Regions from separate parts of the Homo sapiens genome. Here region 2 is linked to region 1. Evidence: fine-mapped expression QTL. Tissue or cell type: whole blood. Region 1 holds a variant in brackets; the other region holds the start of a gene. All regions are shown on one strand. Distances are from middle to middle.

Region 1 (8,141 bases):
CCTTTGTCGCCCAGGCTGGAGTGAAGTGGCACGATCTCAGCTCACTGCAACCTCAGCCTCCGGGGTTCAAGCAATTCTCCTGCCCCAGTCTCCTGAGCAGCTGGGGTTACAGGTGCGTGCCACCAAGCCCAGCTAATTTTAGTAGAGACGGGATTTCACCGTGTTGATCAGGCTGGTCTCTAACTCCTGATCTCGTGATCCGCCTGCCTTGGCCTCCCAAAGCAGGTGTGAGCCGCCGCGCCTGGCCGCTTGCTTAACCACTTTTAAATGAGATCCGGTGCGTTCAGTGTGGTATGGCCATAGACTGCTTAACCACTTTCAGATGAGATCTTCCTATGAGCTGGGGAACAGGTGAAGGACTTTGAATGCAATGTCTCATTTGATCTCTTAATAGCGCCCTTTTACAAATGAGGAAACTGAGGCTTTGAGAGGTTTGTGATTTGCTGAGTCATATAGCTGAGGTGGGCAGAGTTGGCCTTGAACCCAGGCTGTTATGAGGCTGGGGCCCAGGCAATGGAGAAGAAAAGGAATGACAATATCTGGGCATCTACTGTGTGTGAGGCCGGTGTTGCAGGCATTCATCATCTCCTCCCATTTTTTTTTCTTCTTCTTTTTTATTATACTTTTTTATTATACTGGGGTACATGTGCAGAACGTGCAGGTTTGTTACATAGGTATACATGTGCCATGGTGGTTTGCCGCACCCATCAACTCATCTTCTACATTAGGTATTTCTCCTAATGCTCTCCTTCCCCTAAACCCCCACCCCCAACAGGCCCCGGTGTGTGATGTTCCCCTCCCTGTGTCCACATGTTCTCGTTGTTCACCTCCCACTTATGAGTGAGAACATGCGGTGTTTGTTTTTCTGTTCCTGTGTTAGTTTGCTGCATCATCTCCTTCAACTCTTATAGCAGCCTCACGGGGCACTTATTAGTATCCTCAACTTACAGAAAGGGAAACTGAGGCACAGAGAGGCTACATAGCTGATCCAAAGCCAGTCAGCTCCGGGTGGCAGAGCTGGGGTTGAGTCCAGTCTCCCTGATGCCCACATGTACCCAGCTCTGCTGCATCTCAGCCACCTGGCCAACACCGTCCTGCCTGCCCTGACAGCCATAAGCCCTGTGTCAGTGTCCTGGGGCTTCCAGAACAAATGACCCCAAGCTGGGTGGCCTTCAGCAGCAGACATGTATTCTCTCCCAGTGCTGGAGGCCAGAAGTCCAAAGTCAAGGTGTTGGCAGGGCCGTCCTCTCTCTGATGACTTTAAGGCAGGACCCTTCCTCTTCTCTTCCCACTTCTGGTGGTCCTGGCCCACCTTGGCTTGTAGCTGCATCGCTCCAGTCTCTGCCTCCGTTGTCACATGGCCTTCCTTCCTCTGGGTCTGTCTCTGCATCTTTCTTTTTTTCTTTTGAAAAATTTAATCTATTTATTTATTTTGAGACCAGGTTATTAGACTGGCTAATTTTTGTATTTTGGTAGAGATGGGTTTTGCCATTTTGTCCAAACTGGTCTCGAACTCCTGGGCTCAAGCTATCTACCTGCCTCGGCCTCCGAAAGTGCTGCATTACAGGCATGAGCCGTCGCACCTGGCCTCTGCATCTCTGTTCTTTTCTTTGAGACAGAGATTCGCTCTGTTGCCCAGGCTGGAGTGCAGTGGCGCAATCTCGTCTCACTGCAACCTCTGCCTCCTGGGTTCAAGCAATTCTCGTGCCTCAGCCTCCCAAGCAGCTGGGATTACAGGCATGCACTACCATGCCCGGCTATTTTTGTATTTTTAGTAGAGATGGGGTTTCACCATGTTGGCCAGGTTGGTCTCGAACTCCCGACCTCAGGTGATCCGCCTGCCTCAGCCTCCCGAAGTGCTGGGATTACAGGCGTGAGTCATCACGCCAGGCCTTTTGTTGTACTTTTAAGAAGTCAAAAGCTGGGGCAGGGATCGGGGGAGGTTGGGAGGTGGATGAGGGATAAAAGACAACATATTGGGTACAGTGTACACTGCTGGGGTGATGGGTGCACTAAAATCTCAGAATTCGCCACTAAAGAACTCAGTGATGTAACCAAAATCCACCTGTACTCCCAAAAACTATTGAAATAATAAAATAAATAAAAGGTCAGAAGCAAAGAGAATTAACAGGCAACCCACAGAAGAAAATATTACTAGTTAACATGCCTGCAAATGTTTTCACCCCCTGGTGATCAAATAAATACTAACTGATGTAAGATGCCATTTCTTGGCCTTCATTAGTGAAAGTTTTTGTAAATGGTAATTGTGAATGCTGGAAACTGTTTCTTGAACAGTCACTTTCCTACATTGCTGTGGCCTCTTTTCGGGAAGCAATTGGACAGTGTTTCCCAGGGGCGGCCAAAAGATCCATTCCATTTGATTCCATGATTCCACTTCTAAAACTCTCTCCCAAGGAAATAATCAGAGATGTGGTCACAATTTCTATACAAAGATGCTGTTACAACATCTGAAAAAAAAAAAAAAAAACAGTGGCAGAAACAAATTAAAACTAGCTTAAATGTCTAACCATAGGCATTGATAAAATAAAAGGGTTTTTGCTAACTTAGAAGAATGCTTATGCTAAGTGAGAAGGGATGCAAAATTGTATATCCAGTGGGACCACAAATGTGTACAAAATTGTGCAGAATAAAAGGACTTGAGATACTCATGACAAGAGTCATAAAGAGAAAAATTTCCAAGTATGACAAGGGCCTCTCTCTGGGACAGATATGGGGCCATGTCATATACTATTGTTGGAGCACAGAAAACAATTCCCCACAATATGACACTTCCCATGCAGACCTGAAGAAGCAGCCTCAAGGTCTCTCTGATCCCTCTCCTCCTGCCTGTCAACCTTCTGTCTCTCTCAAAGCACTGGAGGAGGCTATTCTCTGACGCTCCCCTATCTACCTAGAAAACAGACCCCTAGTGAGGAACACAGCTGCCTCTGTTGACTTAAAAGGAAGAAGCTGAGGCAACATTCATTTAAGTACAAAGTTTATTTGGGCCAAGCTTGAGGATTGCATCCCAGGAGCATAGATTCAAATTGCTCTGAATATACACTCCAATTAGCAGCAGTTAAAAGTAAATTTTTAAAGGAAAAGAAGAGGCAGTTCCTGAGTTGTTTATCAAGAACGTGTAGTAAAATAACAAGTTTTGATTGGGTATAGGTTGTTCTTTTTATCACACATTTCAGGAACATGAAGATAATGAGTGAGGCAGCTAGGCAGGAACAAAATAACTTTTTTTTTCTTTTCTTTTTTTGTTTTTTGAGACAGAGTCTTGTTCTGTGGCCCAGGCTGGAGTGCAATGGTGTAATCTCAGCTCGCCACAACCTCCACCTCCTGAGTTCAAGCGATTCTCCTGCCTCAGCCTCCTAAGTAGCTGGGATTACAGGCATGCGCCACCACGCCCGGCTAATTTTTGTATTTTTAGTAGAGATGGGGTTTCACCATGTTGGTCAGGCTGGTTTTGAACTCCTGACCTTGTGATCTGCTGGTCTTGGCCTCCCAAAGTGCTGGTGTGTCTGGAATTGGTTACTTCTGGTGCGTTCTTCGTCTCGCTGACTTCAAGAATGAAGCCACGGACCCTCGCGGTGAGTGTTACAGTTCTTAAAGATGGTGTGTCCAGAGTTTGCTCCTTCAGATGTTCAGATGTGTCCCGAGTTTCTTCTTCCAGTGGGTTCGTGGTCTCGCTAACTTCAGGAGTGAAGCTGCAGACCTTAGCAGTGAGTGTTACAACTCTTAAAGGTGGCGCGTCCAGAGTTGTTTGTTCCTCCCGATGGGTTTGTGGTCTCGCTGACTTCAGGAGTGAAGCCACAGACCTTCACAGTGAGTGTTACAATAAAGCTAGTGGGGACCCAAAGAGTGAGCAGCAGCAAGATTTATTGTGAAGAGCCAAAGATCAAAGCTTCCACATCCTGCAAGGGGACCCCAACGGTTTGCAGCTGCTGGCTCAGGTGGCCAGCGTTTATTCCCTTATTTGGCCCTGACCACATCCTGCTGATTAGTCCATTTTACAGAGTGCTGATTGGTCGTTTTTACAGAGTGCTGATTGGTGCGTTTACAAACCTTTAGCTAGACACAGAGTGCTGATTGGTGCGTTTTTACAGAGTGCTGATTGGTGCGTTTTTACTGAGCGCTGATTGGTGCGTTTACAAACCTTTAGCTAGACACAGAGCGCTGATTGGTGTGTTTACAATCCTTTAGTTAGACAGAAAAGTTCTCCAAGTCCCCACCCAACCCAGAAGCCCAGCTGGCTTCACCTCTCACTGGGATTACAGGCGTGAGCCACCACGCCCAACCGGTAGGAACAAAATAACTTTAAACAATTGTCCCCAGGTGTAGGCACCGGCTACAGGGGGCCAGGGAATGACTGGAATTCCATACCCATGTCTCTGTGGGTCTGCAGATCTCTCAGTTCTCAGCCTGCTCTGAGCTATTTTTCTTTTCTCATATCCCCCCTGTTGATCAAAATTATTCCCATGGCAGCATTGATGATCAGTCTCTGTGCAGGTGGCAGTGATAGATGTCCTTCATCCCTCAGTGCTGGGAAGTCTCATTCCTGGGTAGTCCTCATTCAAGCCACTGATTTATATAAATGCTGTTGTTGCTTGTTGAATCATCTCCACTCTTCAGAATATCATTTTCTGGTTTTCTTGGAAGAAGCAAAACCCTGAGAGATACATAGTAACAAAGCCTATTCCATTGGGGATTCAGTTCAAATTGTAGGAAAATAATAAAAGAACTCAAAAACAATGGTCGGGGGCTGGAATCTAATAACAGGTGTTCTATAGCTTTCTTCAGGAGCCTAACTTTTTTCTCCAGTCCCTATTTTTACCAAAGTTTAGTATTATACTTGGCCTGATTATTTGCATAAAGTGCAGCAAGAATAGTGATTGGCCATATAGACCCTTTTAAG[T/G]TGACTTTGCTGGAACGTTCAGAAGGAATTTCAGATTAGACTTTTAAAAGTCTCAAGGCTAGGACATCAAACCAAGGATTCACCGCTAGACTGCACCTGTAATACTTGTACAAATTGGGTGAATTTCTCTCTTCCCAAGGTCCCCAAAATATCTTTTGGTTCCTGGGCATATCAGAAAGACACATTCTTTATTTACTGCAAGATTAGAAACCTTGAAAGGGAACTATGTAGACAAGATAGCAGGCCAGTTTTGCCAAGAGGCTTTTTATCAGCTCTATAAAGTCCATTTCAATTCCTCAAAGCAGTGTTATCATATCTGAAAATACGTCATTCCAGTCAGAATCTTGATTTGAAAAAAAAATTGTCTTAAATTGTATCCTGTGACAGAAAACAGATTCTTACTGAACTAATGCAAATAACTTGATTGCCATAAAATACGAATACTCATGAAGATTTTCCAAGTTTTGGGGAAATCAGGTAGAGATAAAGGCAAATGTTTCCATTTTGTTTACAAAGGTATATTTTATCCAGTTTCTATAAGCTACAAATAGTTCAAAAGAGAAAAGTTTTCTTGACTGTGGAAATCAAAATATAAAAAGAATCAGCAATGTTTTGGGCAAAAAATCATAAAAGTCATTTCAGTCCTCTATCAGTTCAGTCCCATGTAATTAATTCTTGTCTTGCTTGATGTTGGGTTAGCAATCTTCATGAATGCATTAGTTTATTAGAGTTCTGAATGTTTTTACTTGGTCCAATGATACGATCTTTGAAGTTATCAAAAACCTGTATTCAAGAGTACAGGGCCGGCCGGGCGCGGTGGCTCACACTTGTAATCCCAGCACTTTGGGAGGCCGAGGCGGGCGGATCACGAGGTCAGGAGATCGAGACCATCCTAGCTAACACGGTGAAACCCCGTCTCTACTAAAAATAGAAAAAATTAGCCGGGCGTGGTGGCGGGCGCCTGTAGTTCCAGCTACTCGGGAGGCTGTGGCAGGAGAATGGCGTGAACCCAGGAGGCGGAGCTTGCAGTGAGCTGAGATCAGGCCACTGCACTCCAGCCTGGGCGAAAGAGCAAGACTCCGTCTCAAAAAAAAAAAAGAGTACAGGGCCAGGGTCCTTTTCCATGAATCTCTTTGAAGAAAAAGCAAATTTGAACTGCAGCCAGTTGTAAATCACTTTTTGAGAAGAATCAAAATAGAGCAATAATTGTCTATGAATGGCAAAAGACTTCGGGTAGCTATAGTTAAAGATGTAATTAACAAGGAAATTTGATTATTTCTGTGGCATACAATAATTTAACATAATAACTATAATTATGTGTGACAACATAGACGTATCAGAATGTTAGGAATCTCATAACTTGAGAACACACATTCATAACGTATCTATACAAATATAACTCAAACAAATTTAAACACCATTTCTTATTTGACAAAGCTTCCTGTATGACTTTAACATACCACGGTGGCTTAATATGTTTCTCTTGGGCCACAGGAGTTCCTTCTTAAAAAGGAAGATTTAGCACACTTAATTAAAATAGGATCACAGGTCAGTGTAAAACAATAGTCATTTATTTTGCCAAAGTGATAATTTAAAGATTTCAAAAAGCACCCTCTTTACTCTTTGATAGAGAAGAGACCCGGTTTTCCAATCAAAAGGCCTAATAAAGACAGCATGAAGAATGAGATGAACGGAGTCTTTTTTTCTCTTTTTTTTTTTTGCAGTTTACTCAAAAGGTAAACATGAGTCTTTTATTATCTTATTAATATTATATGAAACTCATGTTCAAAAGATAAAACCAAATTCTACCTTTGTATCAGCATATTATTAATGCTAAAGGTAATTTAATAAAACCTAATTATCAACAAATCCATCCAATCTCAATCATCTTTGGCCACATAAGATTTCCATAAACCTTTTATAAACTCATATAATTTTATATTAAAGAATAGATGGATGCTTCAAGAAAACCCTGTCATTCCAACATTAAGGCCCATACTCTGACCCTGCATCAATGTGCTTTTCATATTAATGCACAGTTTCCTCAGTTTTTGGAAAAACTAAATAATTCCCTTCTAATTTTAGCCAACTTGATCACACACAAAATTCCTTTCATGAGATTAATCTTCCACAAATCTTTGTTTTTTTTTTTGAAACAGAGTCTTGCTTTGTCGCCTAGGCTGGAGTGCAGTGGCACGATCTCAGCTCACTGCAACCTCTGCCTCCCAGGTTCAAGGGATTCTCCTGCCTCAGCCTCCCCCAGTAGCTGGGATTACAGGTGCGCACCACCACACCCAGCTAATTTTTTGTATGTTTACTAGAGAGGGGGTTTCACCATACTGGTCAGGCTGGTCTCAAACTCCTGACCGCAAGTGATCCACCTGCCTTGGCCTCCCAAAGTGCTGGGATTACGAGCATAAGCCACCGCGCCCGGCCTCCTCATTTATTTCTACCTTTTTGTGCTTCTATCTTGGGTCACCATGCCCGGCCGTATCTCCCACAAACCTTCTACAGTTCATGTAACCTTCAATTTTGGCCTATACTTCCTTTTTCCTATTGGCATTCCACCTTAGGAAAAAAGTTTATTTTCTCCCTTATCATTTTGACCACACAAAATTCTTTCTCATGTAAAAGAAAACAAATTACTCTGTCTTTTCAATTTTCTTTTATTTTCTGTATATAAAATTGTTTATTTTGTAACTAGTAGTTTTAATTACATATATTAACTCCCATTTTAACTTTTCTTTTTTCTTTTTTTTTTTTTTTTGAGACAGAGTCTCCCACTGTCGCCCAGGCTGGAGTGCAGTGGCACGATCTTGGCTCACTGCAACCTCCACCTCCCAGGTTCAAGTGATTCTCCTGCCTCAGCCTCCCAAGTAGCTGGGATTACAGGTGCCCGCCACCACACCCAGCTAATTTTTGTATTTTTAGTAGACAGGGGGTTTCACTGTGTTGGCCAGGCTGGTCTTGAACTTCTGACCTTGTGATCTGCCCACTTTGGCCTCCCAAAGTTCTGGGATTGCAAGCGTGAGCCACCGGGCTCGGCCCATTTGTTAGTTTTAACACTGGTGCTGCCCCCAACCGAGAAATGAGACAACTCAATTTTGAGATAGTATAACACAAATTTGAGTTTGTTTTGTCTGGTGTACTCCCTCTTTTGGTCAGCTTAGCTTGCCCATTTATGTTGGGATCAAAAGAATCACACCAAAGATTCCTGCCC
Region 2 (8,183 bases), 38 kb after region 1:
GTGATGAAAATGTTCTGAAATTAGTGGTGATGATTGTACAACCTTGTAAATATACTAAAACCAGTTAAGCGTATACTTTAAACTGGTGATATCTGTGGCATGTGAATTACATCTCAATCTAAAAACAAGACATTTGGATGAAGCATCGCTGGATCGACGTGGCCAGGCTGCAGAAAAACAGAGCAGAACCTCTGCTGATCACCTGCCACTGAACCTCCATAGGCTGACAGCACTGGGTGGCCACCCTCCCAGCAGGACCTCATCCATCCTGGAGATCTGGCTGGCTGTGGGAGGCCTGACTAGATCCTGCAACCCATCCCAGCTCTGCAGGGAAGCCTGTGGCCGGGGACTCATCATTTGACTTCTGTGACCTGCAAAGAGGCTCATGAGGCCTCTAGGGGAAGAGTCACCTTAGTCACTCTGAACACTTGTCACATAACCAGGAAAAGTGTCTATCACCTCGCCCTGGCTCCAGCACCGGCTGCTAAGAATAGAGACCACAGGAGTACAGAATTAGAGGTCAAAGCAATAGTAATACCTAAAACAGGCACTTAAAAAAATAAGAATAGCTCATTTGATTCTCACAACACTGCTCTGATGGAGGTTTCATTATCTCCATTTATAGATGGGGAAACTGAAGCATAGAAAGGTTAAGCAGCTTGCCTGAAGTCACACTGCTAGGAAGAGAGGGACAGGATTCAAAATCGGGCCACGGCTTAGCCACTGTGTCACATTGTCTCTTGCTGTGACAGTCTGGACTTCAACCAGTGGGACAAGGGAAGTTGCTAAAACGCTTGGACCTGGAAGTACCAGGGTCATTAGAGAGCAGCGCCTGGCTGCCCTGAGGAGAGGGAGCAGGGTAGGAGTTACAATCGTACAGGCAGTGATGGGTCTGTGCCTGAGATCAGCAACCCTGGAAGTATTCCTAAAAGAGTCATTTAGGGCCAGGTGCAGTGGCTCACTCCTGTAATTCCAACACTTTGGGAGGCTGAAGCAGGTGGATCACGAGGTCAGGAGATCAGGACCATCCTTACCAATATGGTGAAACTCCGTCTCTACTAAAAATACAAAAATTAGCTGGGAGTGGTGGCACGTGCCTGTAATCCCAGCTACTCAGGAAGCTGAGGCAGGAGAATCACTTGCACCAGGGAGGCGGAGGTTGCAGTAAGCTGAGATCACGGCACTGCACTCCAGCCTGGCGACGGAGCAAGACTCCGTCCCAAAAAAAAAAAAAAAAAAAGAGTCATTTAGAAAAACTGAGTATGTGTCAACAATCTTCTGTGGCACTTGGATTTTAAATTGTTGGTGCTGGGATGAAACTGGTCCAGGGGGAGATCGCATCCCATTGATTTTCCCTTTTTGTATGTTGTGAAAATACCTGACATCTGTTTGACCTGCAACCACCATTGCAGCCTCAGCCATCCCCATTTTGGTGGCTGTGGCTTCTTCAACCTAATTTCTGCCACCCTCTGTGAATGACTTGGGTTCTCCAAATCACCACACCCTTGCAAGCTTAATGCCTGTAGTGAGCTGAATGGCGACCCTTAAAAGATATGTCCACATGCTAACCCCGGGAACCTGATTTACCTTACATAGTAAAAGAGTGAACATTATCTTATATGGCAAAGATAGGATTAAGTTAAGGATTTTGAGAGGGAGACCTTATCCTGGATTATCCCAGCAGGCCCTAAATCCTATGATGAGTGTCCTTATAAGAGACACAGAGAAGAGGAGGAGGCAATATGACTGGAGTGACATGAAGGCAGAGATTGGAGTGATGCAGCCACAGTCAAAGAATGTCTGGAGCCACTGGAAGCTGGAGGGGGAAAGAACAGGTTCTTCTCTGTGGCTTGTAGAGGGAGTGAGGCCCTGCTGGGACCTAGACTTTAGACTTCTGGCCTCCAAAGCCAGGAGAGAACATGTTTCTATTGTTTTAAGCCAAATTTGTTCCAACAGTGGCAGGAAGCTCATATACTGTCTTAACACATTCTGTTCTCCTACCTGGAATGCCTTCCCCTCTGCACGCACCTCTCTCAGGCCCACCTGTAGGAAGCTTTATCCACAGTCTTTACCCACAGTCTCTGGATGTCCTCCCTCCTGGCAAGAGGCAGAGGCCACTCTCCCACAGGGCCACTGCTCCCAGCAAAGACTTGCCCTTGTCCGTAGCTCCCTGCGGGTGGCGCTGTGTCTCATGCATTTTGCATTGTCCATGCCCTTCACAGGGCCCAGATACAATCAGCAGAGGAAGAAAACCACAGGATGAAACAGTCCCAATGACCAGCACCAGTGAAGACCCAAGACAGCACAAAAGGCCAGCTAGCAGAGAAACATGATTGTTCACCGTCCATCTCTGGGACAACCTAGGTCCTTCTTGCCTTTCTGTCCTCCTCAGTTGACAGAGTCTCTAAGGGAGGGGCAGGGCCTCCACTTTGTTCCTCCTGGTGTGGAATTCTGACCAAGTGTGTGTGTGTGTGTGTGTGTGTGTGTGTGTGTGTTTGCGCGCGCGCGTGTGTGTTGGGTTCTGTTAAATGCTTGAGCCTGAGACGGGGGGCGGGGCGGGGGGGGGTGCGGGAAAGCCATTTCCTTGCTTAAGCCCAAAGGGTTTCTCCTGACCAGTGGGTCACTCTCATGGCAGATGCCTGGGCAGATTTCTGAAGTGGAGCAAGAGAAATCTTCTCTTCTTCACCTGCTTCAGGGAGGCATCAAAGTGCCAAAAAGGTGGGTTCTGTGGGTCCCCGAGGCCCGTGGCAGGGGCCAGAGTCTGACACCCGCTTTCCCTGGGTTGGGGGCGGGGTGCCTCTGCCAGGAGCCTGGGTTCAGACCAGGCTGGCCTGTGGTCAAAGGCACACTTAGACCCTGGCTGGAGAGTTGGGGCGAGTTACGAGATACCCACTAGGTCACCTGTCAAAGACGGCTAGCCCTCCTGGGGATTTTGAAATCAGGGCACCCGCGGCAAGTTCCCAGGCTGTGCCTGGGGCTCAAGGCGGTGGCTGCTCCTGTGCTCTGGGCTTATTCCCAGGATTCTCAGACGGCTGATGGAAAACGCCCCGGACCCTCCGTAGTGCCGCGGGGAAGTCCCCGGAAAGGGTGTGAAAAAGTATCGAATTTGGGTGATGCCTCCTCCTCGTCCAGCGCCTGACAGGGCCCAGCTCCTGGCCCAGGTGCCCAGGAGGCACCGATCCCCGCAGCCGGCCTCCTCCCGCGCGGGCTCCACTCCCATTTCGGCCTCGCCCCCACACCCCATAGTCTTTCATCCGTGAGTCCTGCAGGCAGGACGGGTTGGAGGTCTGCAAACAGGACCCTCTCTGGGAAGCCGCGACAGCGGCTGAGCTCGGGGTTTGGGGGCGCAGGTCGGGCTAGAACCACCCCCCTTCTCTCCGCGTCCGGGCATCGTCCCAGCGGCCCCTCCTCTGTGCCCAGGATGCTCGGGCGGCGGCTGCAGTGGGACCTCCACCTTCTCTGCCAACCAGAGCGGAGGAACCTTTCCGCCTCCCTCCAAGCGGCGCACTGAGCGCTCTTTGCCTAGAACGACTTCCCTCCCGCTGCCTGGGGCAGCCTCACCCTGGGCGCCCACACCCCAGCCCTGGGAGAGCGCTACTCCGCCTCCCGCACCACCGAAAACCTCCTCCTCCTTTACGGGCCGCGCCTCCTTTACGGGCCGCGCCCCCTTTATACGCGGACGCGCCCTCTTTTGGTCGCCCCCTCCCCAACCCAGCACTAAGGAGCACCCTGCTCTGGTCTCCGCCACCACCCAGCGCCTCCTGGACCCATCCCCCCAAACCCTTGAACGTCCTCAGGACCCCCAGGTGAGCGCGGCGCGCTGCGGGCGGGGACCCTCTCTGCACCTCCCCGCACCCCTGGGGGTCGCTCTGTCCCTACGGTCCCCGCCTCCCCTTTCTCCTTTCTAAGCGCCTCGCGCCCAGGCCGCCGCCCGGGGTGGCGCAGCCCGCAGCCCTCCCGCTCCGGGCGCCCTCCGCCGCTCCGAGACCCCCTGGGGGCGCGTCCTCTCCCGCTCCCCTGTTCCCTCCCCCGGCTCAGGGCGGGCGCGTGGTCCCAGGGGAGGCTCCCGCCCAGCCCCGCACTCCTTTGTGCGGCCGGGCGGGCGCTGCGTCAAGGTGGAGGCGCGGCCACACGCGCGCACCCACCCGCGCGCACCCAGCCCCCGGGAGAGGCAGGAAGGGAGGCGGCGGCGCGAGGAGGAGGGAGCGGCCGTGGAGCCCAATCGTTCGCTCCCCTTCCCGGGTCCGCGCGCGGCGCCGCCTCCGCCATTGCTGCGAGCAGGAGCAGGAGACGCGGAGCTCGGAGCGCTCAGCTGACCTGCCGGAGCCGGGCGTGGGTGAGTGCGGCCGGCCGCGCCTGGGCTTGCCGAGGCCAGACCTTGCCCGCCCAGGAGCAGTGCCCGGGGGATGCCCATCTCCCGGAGTACGCGGGACGGGGCTGTGAACAGCGGGTCGCCCGGGTGCGGCGGCCCCAGGACCGGGGACCGGGTCTGGAGGTGCTGGGCAGGGGCGGCGCCCCCTTCCCTGGCCGCGGTGCGCCCTTGCGCCCGGCGCTTGGGTCCTGCGAGATGAGGGTCTAGAAATACACAGCACCACCCGACCCCCGCATCGGGCCGTGACCACCGCGTCCCCACGAGCCCTCCCCGAGACGAAGCGGGGCCGGGGAGCTCGCGGACGCCGGGACGCCGGTGGGTGTGGGTGCCCACTTCCCCCCCGCCCCGCCCCGGGTCTTGCTTGTGGTGACTCCCCCCGGCCCTCCCGCCGCAGGCTGCAGCCTCGGAGCTCCCGGAACGATGGTGAAGTTGGGGAACAATTTCGCAGAGAAGGGCACCAAGCAGCCGCTGCTGGAGGATGGCTTCGACACCATTCCCCTGATGACGCCCCTCGATGTCAATCAGCTGCAGTTCCCGCCCCCGGATAAGGTAAGCCCCCCCACGCCCCTCCACGTTGCCGGGTGTGCACCCCCAAATCTCGCACGGCGGGCGCAACAAAAGAAACGCGCCGCGTGCGCTGGGTACGCGAAGTGGGGGCGGGCTCGGGAGGCCGGAGGGAGCGCGGCGAGGACAGTGTACCCGCGCGGGATTCTGGATCGCGGGATGCTGGGCGGGGGAGGGGAGCCCTGCCTTAGATGATATTCTCGTCCTGACAGTGGAACGCGGTGGGGCAAGATTCCTTCGCGTTTTTCCTGGGAGCCTCATCCGAGAGGGCCCTGGCCCCGCAGCTGCCCTGCTCCTCCCTTGCCCCGTGGCCCCAGGGGCTCTGGATCGGGGGTGAGCCTAGGGGCGGGCGAGGCTGCCCCTGTACCTTCCCGGGTGTGGCAGTTCAGCCCGACTTGCCCCACCGAGGCGGGGGAGCGTTCTCCTTGGTCAGATGGCCCCTCCCCAGGGCTGAATTGTTCTCGCCCTTTCTGCCTGCCCCTGCCAGGCTGGCGCTAGGTGCAGGAGGGTGTGCGCGCTCACACAGGGTCTCCTTCCTCTTTGTTCCTTTTGTGAAATCTCCAAATAAGTGCCCGGGCTCGCTCAGTATTGGTGTCACTGGGAAAAACCATTCATCAACCTTTCCCCAAAGTGTTTTCTGCTGAATTTAAAGAATCTCCTCTTTTTGAATGTAGCATCCAATTAAGTAGTTTCTGTTTGCTAAGAATAATATTTCCAAGAGTTAACACTTAAAAATGTAAATAGATCTTTGCATGTCTAGGCAATTGTACTGTAAAATTCACATCTAAGACCATAGACACAGCATCTACTCTCAGCATCTTGCTGCCGCTTACGAACCACCACAGCCACGAATAATTCCCGGAAGTGCTTTTCTATTTATTTTCTCATTTAGTCCCTGGTGAAGGGGCTCTGAGCCAGGGCTCTGTCTTCGTTCCAGCAAGTTGGTGATTGCTGACGGGGTGGGTGTTGTGGGGTGGGGGTGTCCTGGTGGGGGCCCTGACCCCTGTGAAGGTGTCCTCCCAGCTTTATTGTGTGTGTCGTCTGGGGAGGGAGGCAGGAGCCGGGAAGAGGCTGGCAGCGGGGGTTTCAGTTCAAGAAAGGGGGATCAGCCGGCCACACCTGTGCCCCCCAGGCCACGGTGGTGCCACTCTGGGCCACTGATGGTCCAGGCTAGGCTTTGCAGGAGGGGCAGGGCTGCCTGAGGCCTCAGCTTCCACTCCACCCCTCCCTGTCTAGGCATCAGACTCGTCCAGTTAGCGGGGCCTGGCCCCGAGGCCCCCACACCCCCTCCTGCCTGGGCCCCCAGCTGCTCGGCTGAGGAGCAGTGGCGCCTGTGCCAGGAACTCCGTGTCCTGAGGCAGCACCTCTATCAGGTGATTCCCCTCACTTGGCCTGAGCCTCCTCTCTTGTCCTCAGTCTGTTCCATTCCAGAACCATTTGGCACAGTTGGTTTATACAGGGAGGAGGGTTTCAGGCAGGTATGAAATCCTCACCAACTAATTAGGTCGACCAGGAGTAGCCTAGGCAGCTCGGAAAGGTGATGAGTCTGCTCTCTCTGCAAGCGTCCGAAGCGGGGCAGCCAGCAGGGATGCTCTTCTCGGGTCCAGCCAGACCTTCCATCCCGGACTTCCCGCCGGGACTGAGTGTGGGTACAAGGGTTATGGCTCTTGGGATCATTTTCCAGAAGGCTTCTAAGGTCACAATGAGGGAACTGAGCCTCAGAGCATTTATGGGACATACCCAAGGTCACTGGGCTGAAGGTTACAGTCCTCCAGGATGCAGAAGTTTCTGGCAGTGCCTCTTACTCCACTGTGCTTGGAGCCAGATGTCTCTCACGTAAGACCTCTCTTAACCTGAACAACAGCAACGTGTTGCTAACGGTCAGAGTTCAGGGAGGCGATGTCACCTGTTTCAGGTGACATGGCTTCTGAGGGGTGGTGACACAGTTGGGTTATAAATGAGAATCTGTTCTGAGAACGTGTATGGAGTGCTGAGGTGCTGGGGTGCAGCGGTGACAGCAGTCACAGTGCTGGCAGCAGAGTCAGGGCTGGTCTCCCCTGACATTTGCCAGACACTTATTCTGCACCAGGAACTATTCTGCCAGTTTTACAGGTTTAAATTCTTTTAATGTGTTGATAATGCCATGAGGTCACTACCATGTTACCCCCATTTTGCAGATGTGGAAATGCAGGCACGGAGAGTTTGAGAATTGCCCAAGGTCACCTAGCCTGTTAGTGGCAGGTGGGGATAGAATCCAGGTCGACAGAATATTGATGGGGCCCCCACATACGGGAGAGGTTTCCATGGGTTTCCTCATCCTCAGCAGTAGCCTTATTTCCCATTCATTGGCCAGTCTAGGCCTGCGTGCTCAAGGTCACATGGCTAGTTGGGTCCAGTCGGGGTTTGAGGATGGCAGGGTGACACCCAACCACTGCCTCAAGCAATGAGTGCCTCACAGGGGTGGGTGCCCAGGCCAACCCATGCCAGGCACCCCTCCCTCTCCACCGCAGGAGCACTGGGTGGAAAAGGAGTTGGGGTCAGAGGCCAAGAGTGTGGTTACAAGGTTTATGGCTCTTGGGATCATTTTTCAGTGACCCTGGAATGGGCTCCGCTGTTCTTTCTCCCCAAGGCTGGCTTTGGGGGTCGTAGCACCGGATGAGAGGCCCTCTGGCTGCCCGCCTGGGGCTGACCATCCCCAGTTGCTGGGGTCTCTTTGTTCTGTCCTGGTCCCCACCATCGTGGAGAGCAGGTGACGGACTGCCCAATGAAGGGGCCTCGTCCCTCGGGGGAGAAAGAGCTTGGAGGTGGCTGGCTGTCTCTAGTGCAACAGCCTCTCCTGGAACCTGGCTTGGGGAGCGGGGTTTGGGGATTAGAGACCTATAACACCTTGACCCTGCTCTTGAACACCTCCCAGTCCAGTGGGACAGAGAAGTAAACAGTCCCTGGCAACGGGTGTGGTGAGTGATGAAGGCAGCGCCGCTGAGGCCAGGGCTGTGAGTGTCCAGGGCTGGGAGGCTTCTTGGGTCCATCTGAAGCTGCTGGGGTGTAGGGCAGATGCAAGGGCTGGTTTCCAGGTTGGACAAACATCGTTCTGCTTCACAGTAGGGGGTGGAGGGGAATGAGAGCAGGGAGACCCTTTGGGGGCTGTGGCAGGGGCAGGGGGAGAGGAGGATGTGGGGGTGGAGACAAAGAGGTTGATCCTGGATCTGTTTCCAGACAAGCTGGTGGCCAGCTTCTCCAGCCAGTC

The links. PIP is the estimated chance that this variant, and not a neighbour inherited with it, causes the effect.
Region 2: it holds the start of NSG1, and the variant in region 1 is fine-mapped to the expression of NSG1 in whole blood (INTERVAL, PIP above 0.99).

Annotation. Positions count from the first base shown.
Region 1 is chr4:4,344,876-4,353,016 of GRCh38, forward strand. No RefSeq gene overlaps it. Among named protein-coding and RNA genes, the nearest start is that of NSG1, 38 kb to the right of the region's middle. The variant T/G (reference allele first, on the strand shown) is at 4,922.
Region 2 is chr4:4,382,838-4,391,020 of GRCh38, forward strand. NSG1 (neuronal vesicle trafficking associated 1) reads left to right here and starts at 4,265. Exons shown (of 5, transcript NM_014392.5): 1 at 4,265-4,336; 2 at 4,767-4,921. The coding sequence starts at 4,793. LOC112268462 (a long non-coding RNA gene) reads left to right here. Exons shown (of 3, transcript XR_007058004.1): 3 at 1,685-1,772.